4 linked regions of the Homo sapiens genome follow. The protein of the gene in region 1 interacts with the protein of each later gene in a biochemical or structural test. Each region holds a gene or a part of one and is shown on either strand. Other genes may lie near its edges.

The links.
Region 2: the proteins of TAF4 (region 1) and ATF7 form a complex in vitro, tested with the Homo sapiens proteins (one study listed by BioGRID).
Region 3: the proteins of TAF4 (region 1) and CREM form a complex in vitro, tested with the Homo sapiens proteins (one study listed by BioGRID).
Region 4: the proteins of TAF4 (region 1) and AHR form a complex in vitro, tested with the Homo sapiens proteins (one study listed by BioGRID).

What each region holds. Positions count from the first base shown.
Region 1 is NC_000020.11:62,058,569-62,063,202, reverse strand, and holds part of TAF4 (transcription initiation factor TFIID subunit 4), read left to right. Parts: intron 1-4,634. UniProt on the Homo sapiens protein: The TFIID basal transcription factor complex plays a major role in the initiation of RNA polymerase II (Pol II)-dependent transcription.
Region 2 is NC_000012.12:53,510,830-53,515,378, reverse strand, and holds the end of ATF7 (cyclic AMP-dependent transcription factor ATF-7), read left to right. Parts: 3' UTR 1-3,325; downstream 3,326-4,549. UniProt on the Homo sapiens protein: Stress-responsive chromatin regulator that plays a role in various biological processes including innate immunological memory, adipocyte differentiation or telomerase regulation.
Region 3 is NC_000010.11:35,133,002-35,137,635, forward strand, and holds part of CREM (cAMP-responsive element modulator), read left to right. Parts: intron 1-4,634.
Region 4 is NC_000007.14:17,332,596-17,337,229, forward strand, and holds part of AHR (aryl hydrocarbon receptor), read left to right. Parts: intron 1-1,316; coding exon 1,317-1,519; intron 1,520-2,291; coding exon 2,292-2,401; intron 2,402-3,049; coding exon 3,050-3,191; intron 3,192-4,634. UniProt on the Homo sapiens protein: Ligand-activated transcription factor that enables cells to adapt to changing conditions by sensing compounds from the environment, diet, microbiome and cellular metabolism, and which plays important roles in development, immunity and cancer.

The sequences.
Region 1 (4,634 bases):
AGGGGTGGGGAAAGCCTGTCTGGGCGGCTGCTAGGCTGCAGTGCTCCAGGGAGGAAGAGAGCTGTGAAGCTACTTCCCGGGGTTGCTGAGACGCCCTTTACGACAAGCTTTTGGGGTACTGAAGCGTTTGTAGGGGTGTTTTGCCAGAGGCTTGGTTTTGCTGTTATGTGTATGTTGACCTTTTAGTAGGAAACGTGGCTGATCTTTAGTAACGTTGTAAAAAGATGTTTGATGGCTGTGATCTATTATGTAAACTGTCACAATGCTTTATTTATAAAAATGTTTTTCCAGAGGTCCCACGTGTCTCAGCGCAGGCCAGGTGCCTGTTGCACCCCTTTGGGTAGGTATTGGACTCTGTCTTGTGGGGCTGGCCAGGTCCTCTTGCTCTGAGCCACTGCAGAGGTAAAGCCTCATCTGTCTCTTTCTTCTGGGAGGAGGTGAAGGAATACGTGGTTGGAAGAGGGCATCTCTGCTGTGTTTATCATGAGTGATCCTGGGACTCACTTCCATCTTCTGTTTTAAGATCAGTTTTAGGGTCGGGTGTGTTTGATGAAGAGACAACTTGAAAAACAACTGTAGGAGTGTTGACTGTGCGTGATTCCTGTGTGTGAGGACAGAGGAACAGCTCACACAGACGTTTGGGTGGCAGTGCTGAGAGCGGTGCTTTCAAGGAGCCGAATGCTACTATCTAAAAAAGTGAGAGATTTACCCCATCTCTTCATGGCCTCCTGCAGTTGATCTACTGATGAGGAATTTTGATTATGTTATTTGTTTCAATAATAACCAAAGCAAAAAAAAAAAGTATCAATAAAACTACCAGTATCCCAAACCAGAGTACCTTCTTTTGAACAGTACAACTTAATTCTGTAAATCAGAATGGCAAATTGCAAATACTCTGGTTACTTCCTGTAATCGATTGATCAGAGAATATTAAATTGTTCTAGTTGGTTCCGTTTTCATTGAAATATTTCGTAATAAAAATGTTTAGAACAAAGATGGAAGTAACTTATAAAAATAACTCTTGCTTGGTTAATAACTCATTCTCATTACAACTCAGTCTTGCAAACTGAGGAGGAGCCGGGAGTATTAGGGGTGGGCAGGGTTCTCAAAGCTGCATGTGGGTGTCAAGTGGAGTAGCAGACGGGTGGCAATTGGATGGGGTGTGAAAGGGCCTGCCCTTCCCAGCCTTCCCTCCGTGGAGGTCTTGGGTGGGAGAAGGGAGGGGACAGAGGTTTCACCCTGAAGTCTTTAAGGCTAAGCCTTAGGCCCGAGTGTTTCAGCCCCATAGTGCACACCGGGTATGTTGAATTTGGTTTAGGTAGCTGTCATGATATTCTTTGTCAGGACAGTGTTGTAAAGACAGTTATGTTAATGTAATTGTAATTTGCTGGTTTGAGGTGCCAGAGTTTAGATTTTATTCACTGAGGAAAAATGAGAAAACTCAGTCTTTAGTGAGATTGTTGCAGATGACACAGTTGTCCCAAGATCACGGAAAAGCACTAGTTATGTACAGCTTAGGATAGTCATAACGTCATAGTCAGGTTGTGATTACAGCTGAAAGAAGAAAAAGGTGATTTGACACCCACATTAGCATGTTGGTAAATTGTTGAGAGATCTTTTCAGATCGGTGTAAGGTAAAGAAGCTCATTTCTAAAGGTTATCTTTTGGCCTGGCAAATTCACATTTTCTTCAGTGTATCTTGGTCTATTGTGCTTTCATGCAGAATTTACTCTCCTTTTGCTCTAAGATTTGGCCCAAGTGTAGATTCCCATTCCAGGACAGAAAAGCACTTTCTCACCATGGGCCTTGATCCCTTGGCCTAGGGGGCGTGTGCTTGCTGCATGTTTTAGGATGAGTACTCCCAGGTGAATGTGTGTCTGTGGGTGCTGTCTGGAGCATTGGTTCCCATCTGTGGGGAAAGGGGGAAAATGTCCACTAGCCCTTAATCGCGCTGTTGGGACGGGTTGGATTTGGCGAGTCCAGGCCCATGCTGGGTGGCGGCATGCAGACGGCCACCCCTGAGGTTGCAGGAGCTGTGAGTTCTGGTGGCCAGTGGTGGCAGCCAGTGCTCTGGCACAAGGGACATTCCTAAAAGTTTAGATTTTGTGACTTGAGGGCCCTGTTGCCGTTTGACCTGGGAGGAATATGTTGTTCCTCGGAGCCTTGGCTTACCCAGCTGTAAAGTGGGGTTGCCCTTTTGGTGAAGAATGTGAATTCTGTCAGGTTGGGCCAGATAACATAGCTGTCAGGTGGCGCTCACTATTCCAAACTCTCCCAGTTCCCCTCATTTTTCACTGATTTTCACACATTAATCCAGACTGGATGTTTTCTCAGTGACTGAGGTGTTTGGTGTGGCAGCTGACTGGTTCTGTCAATGGGGAAGTTACCGAGGTCTGAGGTGGGTCACCCTGGGGCGGTGGTTGCCAACATAGGGGAGGGTTGCAGTGGCCTTTGGAGGCCTGGACCTGGGTGGAGGGCTCACTTTAGGCTAGAGGCCTTAATCTGGTGTTTCTTTTGACATACTCAGGTAGGAGTGACATTTGAAAAGAACAAAGAAAAAGAACTTTTGGGGAGCTGTGTAAAGACAGCCCTGGACAGCTCTGCCTAGCATAGGGCAAGGGCGCCGCTCTGGGTCTTCCCTTCCTCCCTGCCCCCTGCCCCGCGGCTGGGGTCGTCACCATCGCCTTCGGGATGAACAGAGTCATCTTGGTGACAGGTTGGGATGGACCTCACCTGCCTTTGGTGTCTCAGAGCTGGTGACCCTCATGGCTTAGTGGCAGCCAGGAGTCGGGGTCCTGTGACGCTCTTAGGAGCCTCTCTCCTCACTGCTTACTGTGCCCGAGCACTGCATTCACAGCAGAGGTCTATGAGTTTGAACAGAGGATGACGTTTGAAGTTCGTTACGGTTGCCCTGGTTCTTAGGGCCTGTGAGAAGCTTTGTAGGAGAGGGTGTCCCGCTTGCTTCTGTGGCAAATGGACCTGAGGCAGGCCCCGGGCGCCTGGGAAGTTGGCCTTCTCCCAGGGCAGAGAGCAGAGCCACCCTGGCTTCCAGGACTGCCCCCGGGCTCCCCGGTGTGCTGTGGAAGTTGCCCCTTAGACATCAGCACAGGGAGGCCGGGAGGCGGCGTCTGGTCAGAGCAGCACAGACCGGGCTCAGCAGAACAGACTGGTGGGCGTGTCCGCATCCCGAAATCAGAGTGGAATGGAGACAGTTCCTGTTCTACCTCCAAAGCCTTTTCTACTGTATAATGTGAGTTTTCTTCCACTTAAGGGATAAATTTGAAGAAAGCTTTTATAAATTGTTGGTTGTAAGTGAGTTGATCAAAGCATAATTAGCAGCTGTGTTTGAGGATCTTGAAGCAGAGGTGTAACAGGGCTCTGGAGAAGCTTGCCTGAGATTTGGGGTAATTTGCAGGGTTCCCGAAGTGCTTTGCTTTTCTTCTTCATGGTGCTCAGTAGGAACCTCCAAGCCCTCGATCATCCAGGAAACAGTTGCTGTTTAGGGTGTTCACCTGTGGTGCCCGGCTCAGGCAGCGTGATGGGGGCGTTTACTTAATCAGGCCTTTGATAGCAATAAAGCAGTTAAATAAAGGGGGCTTTTGGCTGCAGGCCCTTCTGTGCCGAGTGCTGTGCACCTGGGCTTCCTGGACGCTTCTGCTTCCAGGTGGGCCTGCGGTTGCTATGGCATTGTGGTGTCAGCTGCAAACACGTACACAGCTGTTCTTTCCAATTCTTGCGTGGAATAATGAAGTAGAATAAGTGCTGTCAAGTTATGTTCGAAAATGGGGTGCTTAATATTTCCATGGTTGGACCATGAAAGTTTTGAGTGAAAACTTTTGATTTTTACATATCTCAAATGAACATTTGCACCAAAGATGTACAGCTTTCGAAAAACAAAGAGATACATGTTGTCCACCATGAGGCCCCTCTCCCATTTGAGAAAGTACCTGGTGTCCGCTGTTGGTCAGTCCGCGGTGGTCCCAGGCTCTTCTCCAGGCCTGCCTTCTGCCTGGAGCAGGCCATGCTGCAGTGTGCAGGATGATGTAGTGAAGTGCCCCCAGCTTCTCCCACCGTGGGTGTCATGTTGTGGAGCAGAAGTTGTCGTTGGGAACCGCGTGTGAGGGCAGGAGAAATTGTTTGTTGGGAGCCGCATGTGGGGACAGGAGAAGTTGTCTGTTGGGGACTGTGTTTGGGGACTGGAGAGGTTGGCCCCCCGAGCCCCATTGTCTGTGGCCTGGTGTGTAGACCTGTGTCCGTCCTTCCTGAGGTCTTGCTGAGGTTGGCCCCCGAGCCCCATTGTCTGTGGCCTGGTGTGTAGACCTGTGTCCGTCCTTCCTGAGGTCTTGCTGAGGTTGGCCCCCGAGCCCCATTGTCTGTGGCCTGGTGTGTAGACCTGTGTCCGTCCTTCCTGAGGTCTTGCTGAGGTTGGCCCCCGAGCCCCATTGTCTGTGGCCTGGTGTGTAGGCCTGTGTCCGTCCTTCCTGAGGTCTTGCTGAGGTTGGCCCCCCGAGCCCCATTGTCTGTGGCCTGGTGTGTAGGCCTGTGTCCGTCCTTCCTGAGGTCTTGCTGAGGTTGGCCCCCCGAGCCCCATTGTCTGTGGCCTGGTGTGTAGACCTGTGTCCGTCCTTCCTGAG
Region 2 (4,549 bases), on another chromosome or scaffold:
ATACATACAAAATAACTGCCAGCTTCCTTTCTTATTTTGTCTCCAAAATTGACTGTCACAGGGGAATGAGAAAATGTTCTAAGCTACAAGATTCCCGTTTCCTTAAAGTGATATCCTGTCCTAGTGAACCAGTCAGGTAACAGGTTCTGCTGCATTTGTTTTAAATTTCCCCTCCTGCTTTTCAGAGCTGGTGCTGAACAGGCCACACCCCTAAAGACAAAGGAGAGAAAACACGGTTTTCTCATCCTCTACCATCAGGTACCCAACAGGAATAGGCCCTGAAGTGATTCAGACTAGCAAATGTTATGGCAGATGGTCAGGACGCAGGTTACCACATCCAGGGACTTCACTTTTGCCTTTAAAAATTCACAGCCGTAACTTGTGCTCAGGACTTCCCCTTTAGCTGGCTGCTCCCTGGGATTTTCTCCTGCTTTAGAGTTTTGTTTCATTTTTTTATTGTCTTGATTTCCCAGTAGCAGCCTTGCCCTAAAGCTTGACTGAGTTTATGGCTCCTAAGGAGCTTTCCTAAGACTCTTGACTATTTTTCTTCCCCCTTCAGTCAAGTGTTTTTACAGTTAAGAATTAATTTGTAACTGCATACATGCCCTGCCAGTCTGTCCCTGTGTTGGGTGGCTAATTTATGTAGCGGGTCTTTTTTATTTCTTAGCCCCCATGACTAATTATCTAGTCCTAACTTCATTTTTATCAGTGGGAAGATGTGTACGGGACCTCAGTGAGGAGCACTGCCAGAACCACAGTAACAAAATGGCACTGAAATAAGGAAGCAGCAGGTCAGAACCCCCTAGATAGTTCTTGAGTTGGTTCTCAGTCTCACTAAGGAGGCAGAATAATTGCTGCCCTGAAACTTCTCTGATAGTCAAAGGTAACTTCACTTACCTTGTTATTGCTACCAGCCATGTGGTCACTCTCCCCAAATCTTTGTCTTCCAGATCCATCTGGACCAGAACCAAACATCATGGAAGGTGTCACTTGGCCCTTCCTAAAGTCCATGGCGTTTCTAGAGGCCTAAGGGAGGACACTTTCAGAAAGGAGCTGAGTGTATGGTGGGTGTCCTGAATTCGTTCATGTGAATACAGGACTCAGGCTTCCCACCCCACTCCAATGTGAGTGCTCGATACACAAGCACTCTAGCTAGCTGCCACGTACCCAAGGCCACAGAGGGAGGGGACAGAACCAGGTCTTCTGGTCTGCTCACTTTCTGCCCCATTCCCCTAACAGAAAGTTTGCTTAGAGTTGAAAAGTCTAAGAAAGCCTCCCACAATACTAGAGAGGCCAACAAAAAAAAAGTCATGCCCCCTTTACTTACTCTTTTGCTGCTGGTTATGCATCTCAAATCTGACTTCCTTAGCCTTCACCTCCCTCCTTGGCCCTAAGCATTAGACCATGTACTCTAAGTAGTGGTTAAAGAGGGACTGAGCAAACTGAACCTCCTCTCGCTCACTTCTCTATCCCTGTTCTGTTGGTTTTGGCTCCTTTCTTGATTCACTGCCCTCTAGCACCACCCATCCTGGTAGATGGAGTGCTTAACCCCAACCGTGCCCTATGTACAGCCTGAACCACCAAACAGACACCAAAAAAATTCTTCCTGTGGTTTCTGGGGCTCCCCTGCTCCACACTGAGAGGCTCCTTAAAGGTGCTAGCCCCTGATACAGCTATCCCCGCCAGTTTTCTCCTTTTTTCATAACTTCCTTCCCATCCCCAAATCATTAATTTTTCATTAATATTGTACATTATATACACAGGAAGGAAATACATTATTTTTTTTAAATTTCATAACCAGCCTGTTTAGATTCCAGTCTTCCTAGCTATATCACATATGCCTTGTTGATATGCTCTTTCTGCTTTCTTTAGACTTAATGTTTGACGGGGGTGGGGGTGTCTGGAAGAACAGGAAAGGTGGGGATCCTAAGGCAGATTAAAGGACTCCCTCCACCCCACTACAGCCTCCCATAACTCTAGTCATCCCTCTCATAGTACAGGACTGATTTCTCTGTGTCTGTTTGTACACACAAATGTGCATACAGACATAAATTCCCCCACCCCATACCAAGGTGGTTACCTAGCAGGAATGAGCGTAGGTGGCTGCTGGCCACCATTACCACCGTCTGCATCAGCTGTGTTGTCTCTCTTTGGGGTAAAGTCCTACCCCAGAATGAGAAAAGGCTGGGGAGAGTAGGGCAGGTTAAAGGAGCTTATGTCCTCTGTAGATGTAGGTTTGTATCATAGCTACTAGGGTTTATTTTTTTAATGGGGGGCTAATAGCACAGAGTTATCTCACCAGCAGTAGCTACTGGTGAGTGATGTTTTAGCTGTAAGAAGTGGCTATGAGCAATAGTTTCACTGACTTTACCTTAGGGCAGTGCCACAGTAATCTGGGAACTTGTTAGAAATACACATTCTCAGGCCCCATCCCAGACTTATTGAATCACAGACTCTGGGGGCAGGGTTTAAAAGCACTCCAAGTGATTCTAATGCACACTAAAGGTTGAGAACCATTTCTTAGGGATAAGCTGGGAAATTTTTACAGGTGTGGAGGATATTTCAAATACATCTTTTGCCTTTGCACTAACATGCTTTCATTTCTTTCAGTCTCTTCCTCCATTCCCTTTAAAGTCTTCCCCATCATATCACTGATCTCAAAAGCTAGATTTGTCTTCATTTTAGTCGTATCCCTAAAACCATGCATTGGTCTGGACAGGAGTTGTCCCATATTCCCTTGCAGACTGGTCACTCCATGTTCTCTGTTACAGTAAGGACCAGCCAAGCTTCAGCTGTCCCATTCCTCCCCCTACAACACACACACCTTTCAGGCAGGGAGGAGATGAGCTTCCAGCCCCAAGAGTGGAGGCTGCCACATCCTAACATAGTATCTATTGAAAAGGAAGCAGTGTGTATCTATGATTATATCTCTGTTCATCTATATATTTTTGACATGTAGCAACACCTCTCCATCTTATCAAGGAACTCAACTCGGTCTGGGTCTCCCCAGTGCCCAGTGGTGGCCTTTGACAGGTAGGAGGATGCAGTGCTGCAGGCTATTTTGTTTTTTGTTACAAAACTGTCTTTTCCCTTTTCCCCTCCACCTGATTCAGCATGATCCCTGTGAGCTGGTTCTCACAATCTCCTGGGACTGGGCTGAGGCAGGGGCTTCGCTCTATTCTCCCTAACCATACTGTCTTCCTTTCCCCCTTGCCACTTAGCAGTTATCCCCCCAGCTATGCCTTCTCCCTCCCTCCCTTGCCCTGGCATATATTGTGCCTTATTTATGCTGCAAATATAACATTAAACTATCAAGTGAACCACTGTTATGTCTGATGCTTCACTCCTCTATCCACAGCCCCCATTGTCCCCTTTTCTGGGAGGTCACTGGCCTTTCATGTCTGTCATCTTCATCACTCCCCCATTTCTTAGGACAGAAGGAACAGGGATTTTTGTCTCTAGTTTTTATACATGGGAGATACAGCCTAGAGAAAGTGGATGATTTCTATAAATTACAAAGTATGACAGAAGGCCCAGGGCAGAGCTCCTGTGGACTGCCTTGGAGACAAGGGCCCTTGGCATCCTGGCAGCAAGTACTCACAGGAAACTTAGTATGTGCTTTATGTGGATGGCGGGTGGGAGAGTTGCTGATGGCAAATGGCCTTTTACTTTTCAGTGTTTTGTTGCCAACCCCCACCCAACCATTAAAAAGTGGCTGTTGTGACCAGGGAGCACACACACAGACAAAGACGGAAAGTATAGCTTTCTATGGTAAGGAGGAGGCTGGTCTGGAAATGAGGGGTAGAGTTTACTTAGAAGCAGGTAAGAAAACCGGGCATGGTGGCTCATGCCTGTAATCCCAGCACTTTGGGAGGCTGAGGCGGGTTGATCACCTGAGGTCAGGAGTTTGAGACCAGCCTGGCCAACATGGAGAAACCCCGTCTCTACTAAAAATACAAAAATTAGCCAGGTGTTGGTGGCGGGCGCCTGTAATCCCAGCTACTCAGGAGGCTGAGGCAGGAGAATCACTTGAACCTGGGAGGCAGAGGTTGCAGTAAGCTAAGATCGTGCCGTTGCACTCCAGCCTGGGCAACAAGAGTGAAACTCCATCTCAAAAAAAGCAGGTAAGAGTTCACAAGAAAAACAGGTAATGCTCAGAGACTGTGGGAATCAGGAAGAGGTGTAGGGAAATCACAGATAATTTATTGCATCTGTATATTCCTTTATAAATAACATCACAAATGAGAACAATGAGCCAGGCTGAAGAATTTGACAAAAGAGATAGCAGGTGTCTCTGGAGTTTCCCAGTAGGAGAGAAATGACTTAAGAAGCTATCTGTGGCTGGTGTTTGGTAGACACTTGACACAAATAGCCTGTGCCTCCTGAGGAGAGCAGGAAAGGCAGTGGTGGTCTTCACTGTGTTGTGGCCAGGAGCACATGGGTGTCCAGAGAAGGGTAAGAAAGGAAATTGCTGAAAGCCAAATACCAAAGCCCAGATTATGAGGTTTTGGAGGTTCCCACCACTGAAGCTGCACTCTGAAAACTGGGC
Region 3 (4,634 bases), on another chromosome or scaffold:
TGTATTTCTCTGTTCTCTTTCTCTTCCTGCTTCTGTAAAAGGTATGATACCTTTTGTTCCACATTCTTTTCTTTTTCTTTTGAGTATGCTAGTTGCAGTGCTTTCAGGTTTTCTTATTCTTTTTCTTTTTTAGCCTTTCTTTTAGAAACCATCTCAATAATGCATAATTTACAGTTTACATTTTTGGGTTTTTGAAAGTGGAGTAAGAACTTAGATTGTTTGGCAAGTGTCTTATAAAGAATTCTTAATTTAATATTTCCCGTAAGTCATAGTTATCTCCAATTGTAATATCTAGTCCAAAAGCAGATTTTTTTTTTTTTTTTTGAGACAGAGTCTCACTGTGTCACCCAGGTTGGAGTGCAATGGAGCAATCTCGGCTCACTGCAGCCTTCGCCTCCCAGATTCTCCTGCCTCAGCCTCCCAAGTAGCTGGGATTACAGGTGCCTGCCACCGTGCCTGGCTAATTTCTGTATTTTTTGCAGAGATAGGGTTTTACCATGTTGGCCAGGCTGGTCTCGAACTCCTGACCTCATGTAATCCACTCAACTTGGCCTCCGAAAATGCTGGGATTACAGGCGTGAGCCATGGCGCCTGTCCAAAAGCAGTTTGTTTTAAAGCAGAAAAAGCAAAACTGTGTTTATTGTCTTTCCAAAGCATTCAACTTAGTCTTCAGAGAAACAGTTCTCTTTTTGAATCATTTAATCTACTTAGTCATTTCATCTAATGTACAGTTTAACAAAATTACAAAATTGCAACAAGTGTGGCTGGCACAATCAGGTTTGGTGACAAACACAACTAACTCTTGGTAAGCACCCCTCCCTGTTGGAGTGAACATAAGTGCCTGGGCACACTAGAGAACTGTGGTGGGCATTAGCTATACTGTAGGCTTCACAGGAGTGGAGAACACTGTTAATATGGAGAGCTGGAAATTGGTTAAGTAAACTTTGGTATTCTAGTAAACTTGCCCAAGAAGTTTAATTCTTATATATACCTAGTTTTTCCAGAAAAGTTACATTAAGGTATTAATTTAACCACAGCAGGTAAAAGTTTTTTGTTTTTTTTTTTTTTTCAAGACAGCTCTGTTGCCCTGGCTGGAGTGCAATGGTGCTATCTCGGCTCACTGCAATTTCCGCCTCCTGAGTTCAAGTGATTCTCTTGCCTCAGCCTCCAGAGTAGCTGGGATTATAGGTGCACATCACCATGCTGGCTCATTTTTGTAATTTTTTCTTTTTTAAATGAGAGTCTCGCTCTGTTGCCCAGGCTGGAGTGCAGGGGCGCGATCTTGGCTCACTGCAACCTCTGCCTCTTGGGTTCAAGCAGTTCTCCTGCCTCACCCTCCCAAGGAGCTGGGATTACAGGCGCATGCCACCACGCCTGGCTACTTTTTGTATTTTTAGTAGAGACAGGGTTTCGCCATGTTGGCCAGACTGGTCTTGAACTCTTGACCTCAGGCGATCTGCCCGCCTCAGCCTTCCAGAGTGCTGGGATTACAGGGGTGAGCCACAGCGCCTGGCCTCAACATTTTTAAGTGTTAATTTAATACTATCTTTTCTCTATCAGCATATTGTATTTGTTTGCTTATATTATATGAGCATTTTCCAACATTTGCTTTATTACCCTCTCTGTAATATATAATCCCATATTCAGATTTCACCATTTGTTCCCAAAATGTCCTTTATAGCATAATCAACATATTTTAAATATCATTTGTATAGAAAGCTATATATTGAAGGATACCGACAGCAGTGAAATTGAGCCTGGCATGATGGCTCAAGCCTGTAATCCCAGCACTTTGGGAGGCCGAGGCAGGCGGATCACTTGAAGTCAGGGGTTCGAGACCAGCCTGGCCAAAATGGTGAAACACCATCTCTACTAAAAATACAAAAATTAGCCGAGCATGGTGGCATGCGCCTGTAATCCCAGCTACTCAGGAGGCTGAGGCATGAGAACTGCTTGAACCTGGGACGTGGATTTTGCAGTGAGCTGAGATGGTGCCACTGCACTCCAGCCTGGGCGACAGAGCAAGACTCAGTCTCAAAAAAAAAAAAAAGGAAAGAAAAATTAATTGAAGCTGTTGCACCACAGGGTGAATGGAGCAACATACTGGTGAAAGTAAGGTGAATGCCAACTGTTGTTTTTGTAATCATACCTAATAAAGTTTTTATCAGTGTGTTAGATGGCCTTCAAAATATGGCAGAGAAATCCATAACCAGGCAAAATAATTTTGGGTCTCATTTCTTCTTATAAGTTATTACTTGCCTATAACAAACTAATCTAAAATATGCCTTTCTGCTCTAAAAGCTAAAGCTTAAGAGTCCCTTGGCAGATGGGACTTTTAAATTATTCCTGTAGAAAATTGGTAGTATATAAGTGTTTTAATTTATTATGTGTTTTAATTTATTCCTGTAGAAAATTATTCCTGTAGAAAATCGGTAGTATATAAGTGTTACAGCTCTTAGAATTTGTCTAGCAGGCTCTCCGGTTTTTGCCAGAATGCCCACCACCCCCCGAAAAAAGAAAGTTGGTAGATTGGTAGTATACAGGATATATCAGTATCCTTTGGGTGTTTAGGTATAAGGAGATCTGCTTAGAAATTATAACTGGAGAGCTGAGTACAGTGGCTCATGCCTGTAATCCCAACACTTTGGGAGGCTATGGTGGGAGGATTGCTTGAAGCTAGGAATTTGAGACCTGGGCAACATAGTGATACCTATTTCTGGAAAAAAAAAAAAAAAAAAAAAAGAGAGACATTAAAAAAAAATGAGACAAAGAAGATAGAACAAAAGGCTAGATAATTTGGAAGAAAAGCATGAAAGTAATGTCATAAAGAATTCAAAGAGGACAAAGTTTCAAATAGAGGGGGAAATGCTGTAGGGGTATTGAGGAAGATGGGGACTAGAAAGCATCCTTTTAGATTTGGCAAGCAGGCAAGCGTTCATTGGTGACCTTGTGGAGAATAGTTGGAATGAAGTAAGTCTCTGATCATCCTGAGTCAGGGTCAAGTTTATCTTGTCATTATTCGGGTATGAGGCTAGTTTTTCTCTTTGGTATCTTGTGGCTCCCATGGCCGGAAGTTGGTGCTTTCTTCAGTGCTAGTTACCTCTAGGAAGAGGAAGCGGGCGGCTGTTCCTGGACTTCTCTGAATACCTTTTTCTAGTTTTAAAGTTTTGAACCACAAGAATGTATTACTTATTCAGCAAATAAAACATTTCCAAGTGAAATACAGAAATTGGCCTTTTTTCTATGATATAGTGCTGTGATTATCATTATTGTTCAAGTGCTATTATTATTTTGTTGACATATCTGCCCCCGCCTTTAGATTGCAGGCTCCTGGAGAGCTGTCTCCTGCAGTGCCCCAGTGTCTAGTATGAGGGGGTGGCATCTAATGGGTTATACAGTTGTTAAGGAGCATAAGATGTCCCTACGTAAAATGCTAGTGTAGCATACAATGAGGTTTGATGTCAGAATGGCATCAGTTCTGCTTTTTGTTCCTCTTGTGAGGAGCCTGTTCAAATGCCCTACTGTCTCTTGTCCCTATGCTGGGGGCACATGGTAGCAGTAGTAACCATCGCCTTAGTGCCCTTAGTGAGGTTTGATAAACCTGCCTGCTGCCTACAGTTCCAAATTTGACCAGGATTATATGACATCATTTAGAAGAACCCTTAGGAGGGAACTCTGAAAGCAATGTGTCTGTCTAAGCACTGCTGTTGCTGGCAGAGGTATCTAGAGGTTACTTAGGGATGAGCACGATTGTTTTCTCCAGCTCTAAAAGAAATTAAGGACTCTCAGTTTTTTTTTTTTTTTTTTTTGGGACTCTGTCTCAAAAGAGTTTAGGTCTGTGAATGGTCTTGCTCTGTCACCTAGGCTGGAGTACAGAGGTGCAAACATGGCCCATTGCAGCCTCAACTTTCCGCGCTCAAGTGATTCTCCCACCTCAGCCTCCTGAGTAGCTGGGAGTCCAGGCCTGTGCCACCATACCTGGTCAGTTTTCTTGTAGAGACAAGGTCTCACTGTGTTGCCAAGGCTTGTCTCAAACTCCTGGATTCAAGCAAACCTGCTACCTCAGCCTCCCGCAGTGCTGGGATTACAGGTGTGAGCCACCATGTCTGGCTCAAATGTTCTTTTGTCTTTTTCTTTGCCAGTTTTACTTCTTTCCACATGTCAAATATATATTTTTAAAGATATTAGTAAAAAATAAAGAGAGTTTAATTGCTACAGTGTCTAAACTAGGTTTTTTAATGGATTGAAGGCTATCAGAAGGACGTTTTGAATAAACTTATTTTGTTTGGAGTTTAATTTTTTAACAAAAACCCAAGTTGGAATTTAAGGTAAATGAAAACTTTTTTGCATTGGAGTGAAATATAAGGAAATAATAAATTCATTAATTTTATTAAGTGATCATTAACTTCTTAAAAATAGAGCTGATACCTATGAGCTATACTTAGTATTAGATGATTTAGATAGCACTGCTTTCTCTTCAGTAGAAAATAATCAGAAAAATAGTTTATCATTTAAGTTTTGTCAATTTTTTTCCCTAGGAAGATAAGAAAAATACAGTAGAAGTAAGATTGACAAAAAACCGTACAGGGCTGTTTTTAGCTTTCTAGTCTTTTGGTTTTTTTTGGTGGGGGGGA
Region 4 (4,634 bases), on another chromosome or scaffold:
AGCTTATAGAATAAGGATATAAAGAAAGAAAATGTTTTTGTATGGCTGTACACTGTGTTTAAGTGTTATTACAGAAGAGTCAAAAGTTAAAAATGCAAAAGTTTATGAAGTAAAAATGTTACAGTAAACTGTGCTGGGATTACAGGCATAAGCCACTGCACCTGGCCAAAAGGAAAATATTTTTTATAAATTCAGCGTAGCCTAAGTGTATAGTGTTTATAAACTCTATAGTAGTGTACGGTAATGTCTCAGGCCTTCACATTCACTCACCACTCACTCACTGACTAAACCAAAGCAACTTTCAGTCCTGCCTACCTTGTTTACAATAAGTGCTCTTATACAGGTATACCATTTTTTGTCTTTTATACTGTATTTTTACTGTATATTTTCTATGTTTAGATACACAAATACTTACCATCATGTTACAATTGCTTTAAGTATTCAGTACGATAGCATGCTGTACAGGTTTGTAGCCTAGGAACAAAAGGCTATACTGTATAGCTTAGATGCGTAGTAAGCTATACCATCTAGGTTTGTGAACCTACCCTCTGATGTTCACAGGATAATGAAATTGCCTAAGGACACATTTCACAGAACATGCCCCTTTTGTTAAATGACATGTGAGTGTATGTCTGAGGTGGAATATCTGTGTGCAGGAGGGCCTTTTCCTCCTTGTGCTGCTATTATTTTGATGTCAGAACCATCCCTTGGACTGGTTGATATTGTTTTAAGCAATTAAATATATCATGTTCATGTTTAAGTGCCTTTGTTTTCCCTGTCTTCTAAATTTCTTCCATATCTTTACTCAGTAGGGCTCTGCATTCTTTATATGTTTTCATGATGATTCATTTTAGTGTCTTAATAAAATTATATTTTGCCTCTATAGAAAAGATTATGAACTATGCAGTATGCTATGAGCTGTGATATAGTTCATGTATGCTTGAAAATGAATGTTTACTTTAGGACTTTATCACCATTCAGGATATATTGATTGCCTGGTGTGCAAGGAGCTGTGTGAGGTGAAAATGATAGGGTAATGGCAAGCTTGGAAAATGATATAGGTTTTCATGTTATGACCATTAGGAACAAGGAGTGGTTCACTTATCCCTTTAGAATATTTTTCATATTACTCTTTGAGATAGATTTAATGGGCGTCCCATGGAGAGAGGAGTGAAGGAAACTAACAGTTCTCAGCTTCAGGAATATTTATGGAATTATCAAGAACCCTAGAGGCAGCCATAATGGAGCCTTTTAAAAAGGCACTATTTTATATTGTTAATTTTAATGAACTTTTTTGTTGTTGTTGCTTTTTTAAGGCAATGAATTTCCAAGGGAAGTTAAAGTATCTTCATGGACAGAAAAAGAAAGGGAAAGATGGATCAATACTTCCACCTCAGTTGGCTTTGTTTGCGATAGCTACTCCACTTCAGCCACCATCCATACTTGAAATCCGGACCAAAAATTTTATCTTTAGAACCAAACACAAACTAGACTTCACACCTATTGGTTGTGATGCCAAGTAAGTGAGACTTTTTCACTTTTATTTTATTGGATGTACATTATGTTTCAGTAAGTCTCTCTTAGCATGTAAAACATACAGTGTATGTAATATTGTTTATTATTAGATTGGCTATTATCGTACATTCTTCCAGTGTAGCCTTTTACAGTAAAATAATTTAATCAGGCTCACAAATCATCTTTTTAATTTTTGCAATACTTGTCTCAAATGATGATGTTCTTATATATTAGTAAGGTTTATTCTTCTGATGACATTTATGTTGGTTTGTTTTACATTTTTAAATGGCACAAATGTTATTTGATTTCTAGCCCCAGAAGTTTTAGTAACTTTCAGAAAATTGTGAGCAGGAGTCTGATATTAAACATTTATATCATATCAAACATATCAGTGCTTTTCTCCTTTCTAATGTGGGAATGCAGAGAGGTAATTAGAAAAACCTTCTTCCCTAAAAATAGATTATAAAAACATTCCAGATTTTTATTAAAGATGTTCTGTTACCCATACATCTGCTCTATTAGATTCATTTTTAGCATACTAATTTCCATGGATTTATTCAGGAAAAGAAAATAGGCTGAAACTGAAATTTGCAATCATAAGCAAAGAAGATCAGTTTACATGGATGTGTTTAATTTCACATCTACTTATGTGAAATTCTAAATGTGAACTAAAACATATTGCAGAAACTAGCGTAAAACCAATGAATTTATCTTGGTTATTTCATTTATGTTAAATCTTAATCCATTCTTATTTTACCTTTTTTTATTTTAAACAGAGGAAGAATTGTTTTAGGATATACTGAAGCAGAGCTGTGCACGAGAGGCTCAGGTTATCAGTTTATTCATGCAGCTGATATGCTTTATTGTGCCGAGTCCCATATCCGAAGTAAGTTGTAGTTCCTTATGAACATGTCAGAAGAAAACGGCATATACTGTTGTACATGTTTCAAATTCTTACGTAATGTAAAGTGTTTAAGTAAAGTATATGGATAAACTTCTACTTAGTAACATATCATTATGATTAACCAGGGTTACACTCTTTGTTCATTAACTTGTCTACACCTGCCATGTAGAAATATTGTTGTTTAGTTATTAAAAAATGACCATTTTGGCCCATGAAGTTTTGCTTGGGAATTTTTTAATTACATCGTTATCAATTCATAAATCTATGTTAATATTGTAACAATAATAGTGTTAATAATTCTAGTTTAAAATTATAAAGTATTAGGCTGTAGGAAAATATTCCCTATTTAAAATGAAAATAATTTTTTCCCCAACTTATGTTCTCTCTATACTTTCCTGTGTTACTAGAATTGTTTGGTACATAATCTTCCCTTTAACATTTAAAATAATAAATTTAAAACAACTCTGAAAAACTATTTCCATGCCTTTTATTATTTTTTGTTTAAAATTTATTGTCTTTGGGGATAAAGGAAATACATCCAGAACTATGTCACAAGAGCTTTGTTTTAGGAATAATCTTTACTATATTGATTTGGGGGTTTGATAATTTAATTTTTTAATTTTATTTTAGTGATTAAGACTGGAGAAAGTGGCATGATAGTTTTCCGGCTTCTTACAAAAAACAACCGATGGACTTGGGTCCAGTCTAATGCACGCCTGCTTTATAAAAATGGAAGACCAGATTATATCATTGTAACTCAGAGACCACTAACGTAAGCACAAATAATGTTTCCTGTTTTAACAGTTTTGTTTTCATAAGTCCTCTTATGTGAAAGCATAAAAATAATTCAAGCAGACTTTAGTCTGTAAATAAAAATTGAAAAGTTTAATTCATCTAGAAAGAAGAGCACAGGTGAGAGACATTGAGAAGATAGAATTGACGAACTTGATTGAGAGCTACATGTGCAGAGCTATAGAAAGAATAATAAAACTCTAGGGTTTTATCTTGGGCATATGAAAGACACATGAAAAGCTAGTGTCATTGGTAAAAAAGAAGAAAAATATAACAATGCTTTATTTAGAATATATTCTCTAAACCCAGCAGTGATTTTAAGAGTTTCTTACACATGCTGCAGATGAGTCCTTTATCAAATATTTGTATTGCAAATGTTTCCTCCCACTCTGGAGAATTGATTTTTGTCTGTAGCTTGAGGTAAGGATTGATTCCCCCCAGCCATTATACGTATACCCAATTGACCAGTAACATTGAAAAGATGATTTACCGAGAAGGTCATTGTTTCCCGGCTGCGCTGTATTTTGATCAGGGGATTTTGTCTGTGGTTCTCTGTCTGGATTGTGTTGTTCTATTAATAGCTCCATTAGTGCAGTTGTCTATTTTGTCTAGCATTACACTGTCTTAGTTATTCTATCTTTATTATATATTTCTATGTCAGAGTGTGTCATTTTGTTTGTTTTGCCTTTTTTGTTCTCCTTCAAGATTGCCTTGGTTCTTCTTTGCCCTCTATAATTCCATATACATTTTAGAAAGCAGTTGTCTGAAAATCTGTTGAGATTTTGAGTGCAATTACCTTGAAACTGTAGATCATTTGGGGAGAATTAACATCTTTTTAATACTGAATCTTTGAGCCCATGAACATGATGAATGTATGTATGTGTATAAGTACCCATGGAAGTACATGAGTATGTGTGTACCATATGTATATGAGTGCATGGGTATGTGTGTACCTCTACAAATTTGTCACTTCTCCCTTGATCAATGTTTCTAGAAGGCACTTTTTTTAATTAGATTTTATTAGTCTTTATTAGGATCCAACTTTTGGTTTATTGATTTTTTTCTATTTTATACATTTGTTTTCAATTTTAATTATGTCTGCTCATTATTATTTTCTTCCTTCTACTTTCTTTGGGTATAATTTATCATTTTTTGCAACTTTTAAAAAATATATACTTAAACATATATATCAGTTTCCCTTTAAGTACAGCATTACAACCCTCATCTTTTGCTATCTTATTTTTATTATTTAATTGAAAATACTGGCTAATTTGTTTTTATTTTTATTCATGAATTATTTAGAAATACAGTGTTACTGTACTTTTTGGTGTTTGGGGATTTTTCTAGTTGCCTTTTTATGATTGACTTTTAGCTTAATTCCATTGTAGTCAGAAAATATTCTCTGGATGGATTTCAGTTTTTT